Linked DNA regions of Homo sapiens: region 2 is linked to region 1. The links come from fine-mapping of genetic effects on gene expression. A gene starts in region 1. The other region holds a variant in brackets. All regions are shown on one strand. Distances are between the middles of the regions. Region 1 holds the start of DNAJC27 (DnaJ heat shock protein family (Hsp40) member C27). Region 2 overlaps EFR3B (EFR3 homolog B).

Region 1 (4,520 bases):
CTCCAGAATCCATGCTCACACTATACCTCCCAGGTCCATACTATGGAAAAAGCAGCTAACTCGTGCTGATTTTTATTTTTTTATATTCAAAGAGTGGGGGAAAAAAAACAACTTTCTTGCTCTTTCGATTCCAAACTAATTTAATACACACAGTAGAAAATGTAGCTATATACAATAAAGTGTCAAAAGCATCAATATGGGCCGGACGCTGTGGCTCATGCCTGTAATCCCAACACTTTGGGAGGCAAAGGCAGGAGGGTCACCTGAGGTCAGGAGTTCGAGACCAGCCTGGCCAATATGGTGAAACCCCGTCTCTACTAAAAATACAAAAATTATCTGCGTATACCGGTGGGTGCCTGTAATCCCAGCTACTCGGGTGGCTGAGGCAGGTGAATTGCTTGAACCCGGGACACAGGGGTTGCAGTGAGCAGAGATTGTGCCACTGCACTCTAGCCTGGGCAACAAGAGGGAAACTCTGTCTCAAAAACAAAAACAAAAACAAAAAAAACCCCATCAATATGAAAAAAATAGTAATCAATTTAAATCTGTGGCATGTTTTACTGCTTAGTCTCAACAGCACCATACTTAATCAATCATAACAGCTGAAGATTTGACATTTTATAATTATTCTTCCACAATACCAGTTACCCTATTACAGGGCCAAAGGTGAACTGTCGAAGAAATTACATGTTTAGTAATTTGATTTATTAAATCATACTGAGAAGTTAGCATGTGGATTCTTTTAAGCTTTAAAACTATCCAAATTCTAACCAGGACTTATATTTCATATTTGTAAATAATTTTAGAAGCTTCAGTGAATTAAGTTATATTATTTGATTATCAAAACAATCCAGAATAAACTTGTCTTAAAAAAAACTTAATGTTTAAAAAACACATTTTAAAATTAAAATGTGGAAAATCTGACTTTACTGTGAAATGTTGAGCCTTTGCTCATTGCCTTCCTGTAATGCACTTCCCTTAAGATGTTTAAAGTTAGGTGAGAAAAGAAGCAATGCTACTTTTGTCTTTGTAATATACAGGGAAATTGGCAGCCATTTTTTTTCAGGGCACTATAAATAATCATTGTCAAGTTCTATTTATCTTCTGTAACTGAAGATATTCACTGAAAAAAAATTACCGTTCCTGTCAGACTGACTTTTATTCAAGCACTGTCACATTGTCAGCTAAAGGGAAGGGGAGAGCAGACGTCGAGGTCACGTTCGAAGCGAACAGCGGGGAGCTGAGGAAACTGACGTCCACAGCTCCAGCCTGGCTTAGCGTTAACACCTGCAGTAGACCAAGCCTTTCTCCCACAGAGGAGTCAACAAATCCATCAGAGATCTGTAATAGGAGGGCCAAGACTAAACACTCTTGCCTTGACTCCAAATAGACAACTCCATTTAAAATAAAAAACAATAGGAACCAGATTCAGAATCGCTTCACGCCTTGCCCAAGGCCCTCTTCCAGAACCAGGGTTCCGACCTCCCCACTTTCCTGGCTTTGGGGTCTGCCTCTCGGGGATCTCGAGCAAGGGGAACAAAATATTGGAGGGGGAAGAGGAGCAGCAGCCCGGCCCATGGAACCGAAAAAGAATCCAGAAAAAAAAAAAAACACTCCCAAACGGACGAGACACTACCAGACCCGCCCTGAAGAGCCAATACATTTCCACCACTCGGCTGCGAAAGCAACAAACGCCTCCCGTCCGGGCGTCCCTGAAAACAAGGACGCGCTCACCTCGAAGGGTAAACCCAGCCGCCCCCCAACGCCGCCTTCCCGTCAGGGGACGAGGCCTTAGAAACTCGGTAACTGCAGTCGCGTCTCCAGGGCCTGCAGATGACGTCAGCAGCCCCGCGCTAGCATCGCGAGACTCCCGTCTCCCTCCCCCGGCTCCCCACGCTCCCAACCGCCCGCGCCTGCTGCCAGGCAGCGGCGGGGATGGCGAGCAGCGGAGGCGAGGCGGTGACGAGAGCAGCGGCTCCGCCATTGGACGAGGAGGCCTGAGGGACGGGCCAGCGGTGCACAAGAAGAGACCGAGGCGGGTGGCCCCGAGAGAGCCAGGGCCATGGAGGCCAACATGCCGAAGCGGAAGGAGCCCGGCAGGTCTCTCCGCATCAAAGTCATCTCCATGGGCAACGCCGAAGTGGGGAAAGTGAGTACAGCGAGCCGGGAGGGGCGGGCCCCAGCGTGGCGGGGCGACGTGTCCATTGGCTGGAAGGGCGGCCACTCAACAGCCTGGGGCCCGGCCTCCTCTCCGCCCCCGAGCAGGCCCGGGTCTCAGCCGAGGGGTGCGGCTCCGCGAACGAAACTCCCCGACCTTTTTGACCTTTCCGTTGCCCCCTCGTCCTCCGACGTCACTCTTCCGGAGATGGTGTCTGGGGTGGCCTCTAAGCCTTGAATGTACCCCCAAAAGAGTAAGAAGGCCTGGGTCCCCATGAGGGGCCGTCGGCCTAGATACCTTGCCCGCGTTCTAGGGGGCCGTCCGGGACCGGGAGATGGAGGATGAAAGTTTAGTTCCCCCAGCCGGGCCTGGGAGCCGGCGGAACGTTATGGGGTGCGTGTGAGAATTTGGGGTTCGCGAAATGGTGCCCGGCAGCCCAGATTCTGCATTCCCGTCACGAGAGAGCGTAACTGACGTTGACGTGTTTCACAGGGGAGGTGCAAGGGATGGCCGGGGTCCGCGCTGTTTTGTTTTGCGTTGTGTTTTATTTTTGGTGGTGTCCCCATATCTGTTAGTTCCACCGCCCTTCTCTCTGCCCCATCTGTGGTTCATCAGCTATAAACTCTCCTTTAGTACGTGGGGAGGGAAGGCCAGAGGTAACCTGAGGCCTTTTCCCTTATGAATTCCAAGACGGCCTCCTCTTCACTCAAATTCTTTCCTTTTGGGCAAGTGGAATCTGTTGGTTAAGAACTTCCCAAGGTCATCAAATCAGTGACCGAGGAAAGATTAGAACCTAAGTCTTCACATTCCCACTGCGGTGCTCTTTCCGTCGTTGTATGCGTTCAAAATCAACTCCGAAAGAGCTGTTAAGGCAGTGCCTAGTCCAGTGCCTGGCACCCAGGAGATGCTCAGTAAATGTTTACTTAGTGTTTTTTATTTCTGTGTAGCATGATCCCGTACTACTTTTGTGTGTATGTGCTAGCATAGTATTCACTGAAAGTCAACATTTTTTTGAACGTCAGCTGTGTACGAGGTGTTTTTTTTTTTCTAGGGACTGGGCACGCTAGCTCAGGCCTGTAATACATCAGCACTTTGGGAGGACGAGGCGGGCGGATCACTTGAGGTCAGGAGTTCAAGACCAGCATAGTGAAATCCTGTCTCTACTAAAAATGCAAAATTAGCCAGGCATGGTGGTGCACGCCTTTAATCCCAGCTACTTGGGAGGCCGAGGCGGGAGAATCGCTTAAGCCGGGGAGGCAGAGGCTGCAGTGAGCCGAGATCACGCCATTGCACTCCAGCCTGGGCGGCAGAGTGAGACGCCGTCTCAAAAAAAAAAAAAAAAAAAAAAGTAATTTTACTGTGCCTAATGATACAACATTAGAAGCAGCTCAGAATGCCCAGTGTCACCACATCTACTTAACATTTTTCTAGTTTTATTAGCCAGTGCAATTAGACAAGAGTAAGAGAATATAAAAATATTAGAAAAGAGAAGGTAAAATTAACATTATTTGCTAATAATACGATTGTTTACCTGGAAACCCAAAGAGAAATAACTGAAAAACTATTAGAAACATTATAAAAATTCAATAAAGCAAAATTATTACCCACAAATTAATAACTTTATTGTGTCCAAATTATATTCAGTTGGAATGTGTAATTGAAAAACAATTTTAATTTACAGTTACAACAAAAATAAAGTTCCTAGGTTTAAACTTAACATGAAATAGGCAGCACCTATATGAAGACAAGTTTCAAACTCTACAAAGGGAGATAAATTACTTAGGCAAATGGAAAGATATACTTTTTCCTTACGTGGGATTACACAATATTGTACAGATGTGAATTACTCAACCTACAAATGAAATTCAATTCCAGTGAAAACATCAATAAGGGTTTTTTTTTCCCAGAACATAATACAAGACTACTAAAGTCTTCATGAAAAATTAATGTGAAAACAACAAAGAAAATTGTGGGGAAAAAAAAGAAATGAAAGAAGACCAACTGTATCAGCCATTTAAAAATATTTTTCAGGCCGGGCGCAGTGGCTCACGCCTGTAATTCTAGCACTTTGGGAGGCAGAGGCAGGTGGATTGCCTGAGCTCAGGAGTTCGAGACCAGCCTGGGCAACATGGTGAAACCCCATCTCTACTAAAATACAAAAAATTAGCCAGGCATGGTGGCGCACGCTTGTAGTCCCAGCTACTCAGGAAGCTGAGGCAGGAGAATTGCCTTGAACCTGGGAGGTGGAGGTTGCAGTAAGCCCAGATTGTGCCACTGCACTCCAGCCTAGGCGACAGAGTGAGACTCTAAAAAGAAAAAAAAAATTTTTTTTCACTGTGATGATGGTTTTTCAACGTTCACA
Region 2 (4,000 bases), 97 kb before region 1:
CATGAACCCGGGAGGCGGAGCTTGCAGTGAGCCCAGATCGCACCAGTGCACTCCAGTCTGGGCGACAGAGCGAGACTCCGTCTCAAAAAAGAAAAGAAAAGAAAAGAGCTTGAGCCTGACCTGTGGTGTATTAAGCAACAATGAATTTTCTCCTTTGTTTTCATTTCCATTAACGTGCGGATCTCTGCATTAATCCGAATGGATATCTTCACCCTCCCAATGTTGTGTGCCTTCACAGTTTGTCAGATGAGCAGTTTAGTAGAGTCTGTCCCTCTGAGCCTCTGCGCCCTCCATCTCTTCCCACTGCCACCCCGCCTCTCTCCCTTCCTCAGCTCTTCATTGACAGTGGCCCATTCCTGCCAAATATCTCCCACTCCTGGCTGCTGGAGGGACGTTTCAAATAGAAAGGATGTCACCTGCTGTTCACTGCTTTCCTCCTTCATTTTCTTATCAGCCATCACTAGCTCCTCCAGATTTGAATTTTAAAATCATCAGAAGCCAGTAGGATGCGGTGGCTCACGCCTGTAATCCTAGCACTTTGGGAGGCTGAGGCAGGTGGATCACTTGAGACCAGGAGTTCGAGACCAGCCTGGCCAACATGGTGAAACCCCCATCTCTACTAAAAATGTAAATATTAGCCGGGCGTGGTGGCATGCACCTGTAATCCCAGCTACTCAGGAGATTGAGGTGGGAGAATTGCTTGAACCCGGGAGGCGGAGGTTGCAGTGAGCCAAGATTGCGCCACTGCAGTCCAGCCTGGGAGAAAGAGCAAGACTCTGTCTCAAAGTAAATAAATAAATAAAATCATCAGAAGCCCCCGGTAATCACAGGGAAAATATTGTGTAATGAGGTAGGAGGTGGGACTCGACTCTGGGGGTGGGGCTTGAACACTGGACCAAATTGAGGACTAGCTAAAACAAGGCAGAAGCAGCTTTTCATAAGCCACACCCACCAGTGTGCCATGTCAGTTTACCATTGCCATGGCAATAGCCAGGAGTTACTGTCCTTTCGACAGCAAGGACCTGATGAATAATCAATGACCTGATGAATCAAAAGTTACAACCCTGGCTGGGTGTGGGGGCTCAGGCCTGTAATCCCAGCACTTTGGGAGGCCGAGGCAGGCAGATCACGAGGTCAGGAGATTGAGACCATCCTGGCTAACACGGTGAAACCCCGTCTCTACTGAAAATACAAAAAAATTAGCCAGGCGTGGTGGCGCATGCCTGTAGTCCCAGCTACTTGGGAGGCTGAGGCAGGAGAATGTCCTGAACCCGGGAGGCAGAGGTTGCAGTGAGCCAAGATCGTGCCATTGCACTCCAGCCTGGGCAACAGAGCAAGACTCCGTCTCAAAAACAAAAAGTTACTACCCCTTCCCTAGAGATTTCTGCACATACTGCCCCTTAATCTGCATATAATTAAAAGTGGTATAAACACGACTGCAAAACTGCCCTGAGCTGCTACTCTCAGACAGATTGTCTACATGGTAGCCCTGCCCTGCAGGAGCAGTCATGGAGCTGGAACACCGCTGGAGCTGTAATGCTGCCACTTCAATAAGGCTGT[T/C]TTCTTCTACTCTATCACTAGCTTGCCCTTGAATTCTTTCCTGGGCAAAGCCAAGAACCGTCACAGACTAAGCCTCACTTTGGGGGTCGCCTAGCCTACATTAGTATGGAATCTTTAATAATCTTTATTTTAGCATGGTTTGAAATCAGGAAGAGGGGAAAAAAGCATCAGACAAGATACATCGTGGCCACCAGAGACAAGCGATGGCTTCTCATCTCGCTTTAATTGACCCTGGCTTCGCTGCTGTGCCCAAGGCCTGGCCTCCTTTGCTTACTTAGAAAGTGACTCCAGTACAGGCCAGGCGCAATGGCTCATGCCTGTAATCCCAACACTTTGGGAGGCCGAGGTGGGCGGATCACCTGAGGTCAGGAGTTCAAGACCAGCCTGGCCAACATGGTGAAACCCCATCTCTACTAAAAATACAAAAATTAGCTGGGTGTGGTGGTGAGGCTGAGGCAGGAGAATCACTTGAATCCGGGAGGCGGAGGTTGCAGTGAGCCAAGATCGCGCCACTGCATTCCAGCCTGGGTGACAGAGTGAGACTCTGTCTCAGAAAAAAAAAAAAAAAAAAAGATGCCGGGCGCGGTGGCTCACGCCTGTAATCCCAGCACTTTGGGAGGCCAAGGTGGGCGGACCACAAGGTCAGGAGATAGAGACCATCCTGGCTAACACGGTGAAACCCCATCGCTACTAAAAACACAAAAAATTAGCTGGGCGTGGTGACAGGCACCTGTAGTTCCAGCTACTCTGGAGGCTAAGGCAGAAGAATGGCATGAACCCGGGAGGTGGAGCTTGCAGTGAGCCGAGATCGCGCCACTGTACTCCAGCCTGGGGGACAGAGCGAGAATCTGTCTCAAAAAAAAAAAAAACATAAAAAAAACAAAAGTGACTCCAGCACAGATCATACGGTGAATCTTTGTTTTATTCATTGCTCAACACCTAATATTCAAATGCTAGCAAACACACAGGCCCTTAAACCCAGTTATCTTATGCTTGTGCCCCAGGATGAGCATAATGAATGAGGCTTGAGAAATCTAACTTAGAAAATGAGGCGTGGAGCCTTCCCGATCTTCCTCAAGCCTGCATTGACTCAGCTTGCAGATGCCTGCTGTCTATGTCTGTCAGCTTCAAATTGTTATTAATGTCTCAGTATTTTTAGGGCTCATCACAGTCTGTTTGATAAAATCTAAGTTTCAGCTCCTCAGTGTGGGGAGTGGAAACAGAGATCAGAGTAGGACACGACTGTCGGCTTCCTCAAAAAAACTAAATAAATAATGGCTCCCCAGCAGCATCTCAGACTTATGGCTCATACACACATCAGCCCTGACCTTACACACCCAGTCCAGGAGAACCAGGGGTGAGAGCACCACAGGAGAAGCATGGATGCTTTTCCTCCCCTTGGCTCAGAAAGCCCATGTCTGGGTATCTGCACCTGCTCGTATGCACAGGGAAGCAGGTAAGAGATGGATCTGGTGCCTTTGTTTGGAAACAGCCTACAATGCTCATCCATAGGGGACTGGAAAGGCCAGGTGCGGTGGCTCACACCTGTAATCCCAGCACTTTGGGGGCCAAGGTGGGTGGATCACTTAAGCCCAGGAGTTTGAGACCAGCCTGAGCAATATGGCGAGATCCCCATCTCTATTTTTTTTTCCAAAAGAAAAAAAAGTTTTAACATTAAAAAAGAAAATAGAGGGCTGGCTAAATAAGGCAGGGAACAGCCATGCAATGCACACTAGGCAGCAGCTGAATTGAATGAAGCAGAGCTCTGAGCACCGCCCCAGACAGCTCTCAAACATACTGTTAATTCAAAAGGAGGCTGTGGCCAGGCAGATCACGAGGTCAGGAGATCGAGACCACCCTGGTTAACACGGTGAACCCCGTCTCTACTAAAAATAAAAAAATTAGCCAGGCGGGGTGGCAGGCGCCTGTAGTCCCAGCTACTTGGGAGGCTCAGGCAGGAGAATTGCTTGAACCCAGGAGGCGGAGGTTGCAGTGAGCCGAGATCATGCCACTGCACTCCAGCCTGGGCAACAGAGTGAGACTCTATCTCAAAAACAAAAAACAAAAAAAAAAAAACAAAAACTAAAAAGGAGGCTGTAGAACACCTATGATATGATTCCATTTGTGTGCACCCTCACAGGCCAAACCAATGGGGTGTGTATGTAAATATGTGCGTGAAATATGCTGTCATGAACAAAGAAAGATCTGTAAAGATACACAGCACAGTGTTAACGCTGGTCACCGAGTAGAGCTGGGTGGGGGTGCCTAGGGATGGAGAGGGTGAGGAGCGACTTAAACTGCACTACCCAATATGGTAGCCACTAGTCACTTGTGGCTACTTAAATTAAATAAAATTTAAAAATTCAGTTCCTCCAGCAAACTAGCCACATTTTATGTGTTCACTAGCCACATGTGGCTAATGGCTACCACACTGGACAGT

The links. PIP is the estimated chance that this variant, and not a neighbour inherited with it, causes the effect.
Region 2: its variant is the best candidate, but not a certain one, in a credible set for the expression of DNAJC27 in whole blood (INTERVAL, PIP 0.66).

The regions. Positions count from the first base shown.
Region 1 is chr2:24,969,447-24,973,966 of GRCh38, reverse strand. It overlaps DNAJC27 (DnaJ heat shock protein family (Hsp40) member C27), which reads left to right and starts at 2,012. Exons shown (of 7, transcript NM_016544.3): 1 at 2,012-2,149. The coding sequence starts at 2,063. It overlaps DNAJC27-AS1 (DNAJC27 antisense RNA 1), which reads right to left and starts at 1,855. Exons shown (of 3, transcript NR_034113.1): 1 at 1,735-1,855. RefSeq lists enhancers at 963-1,480, 1,692-1,771, 1,481-1,999, 1,982-2,091, 2,352-2,461 and 2 more and a silencer at 2,222-2,301.
Region 2 is chr2:25,067,063-25,071,062 of GRCh38, reverse strand. All of the region lies in intron 1 of EFR3B (EFR3 homolog B), which reads right to left. Among named protein-coding and RNA genes, the nearest start is that of EFR3B, 27 kb to the right of the region's middle. RefSeq lists a silencer at 646-788. The variant T/C (reference allele first, on the strand shown) is at 1,561.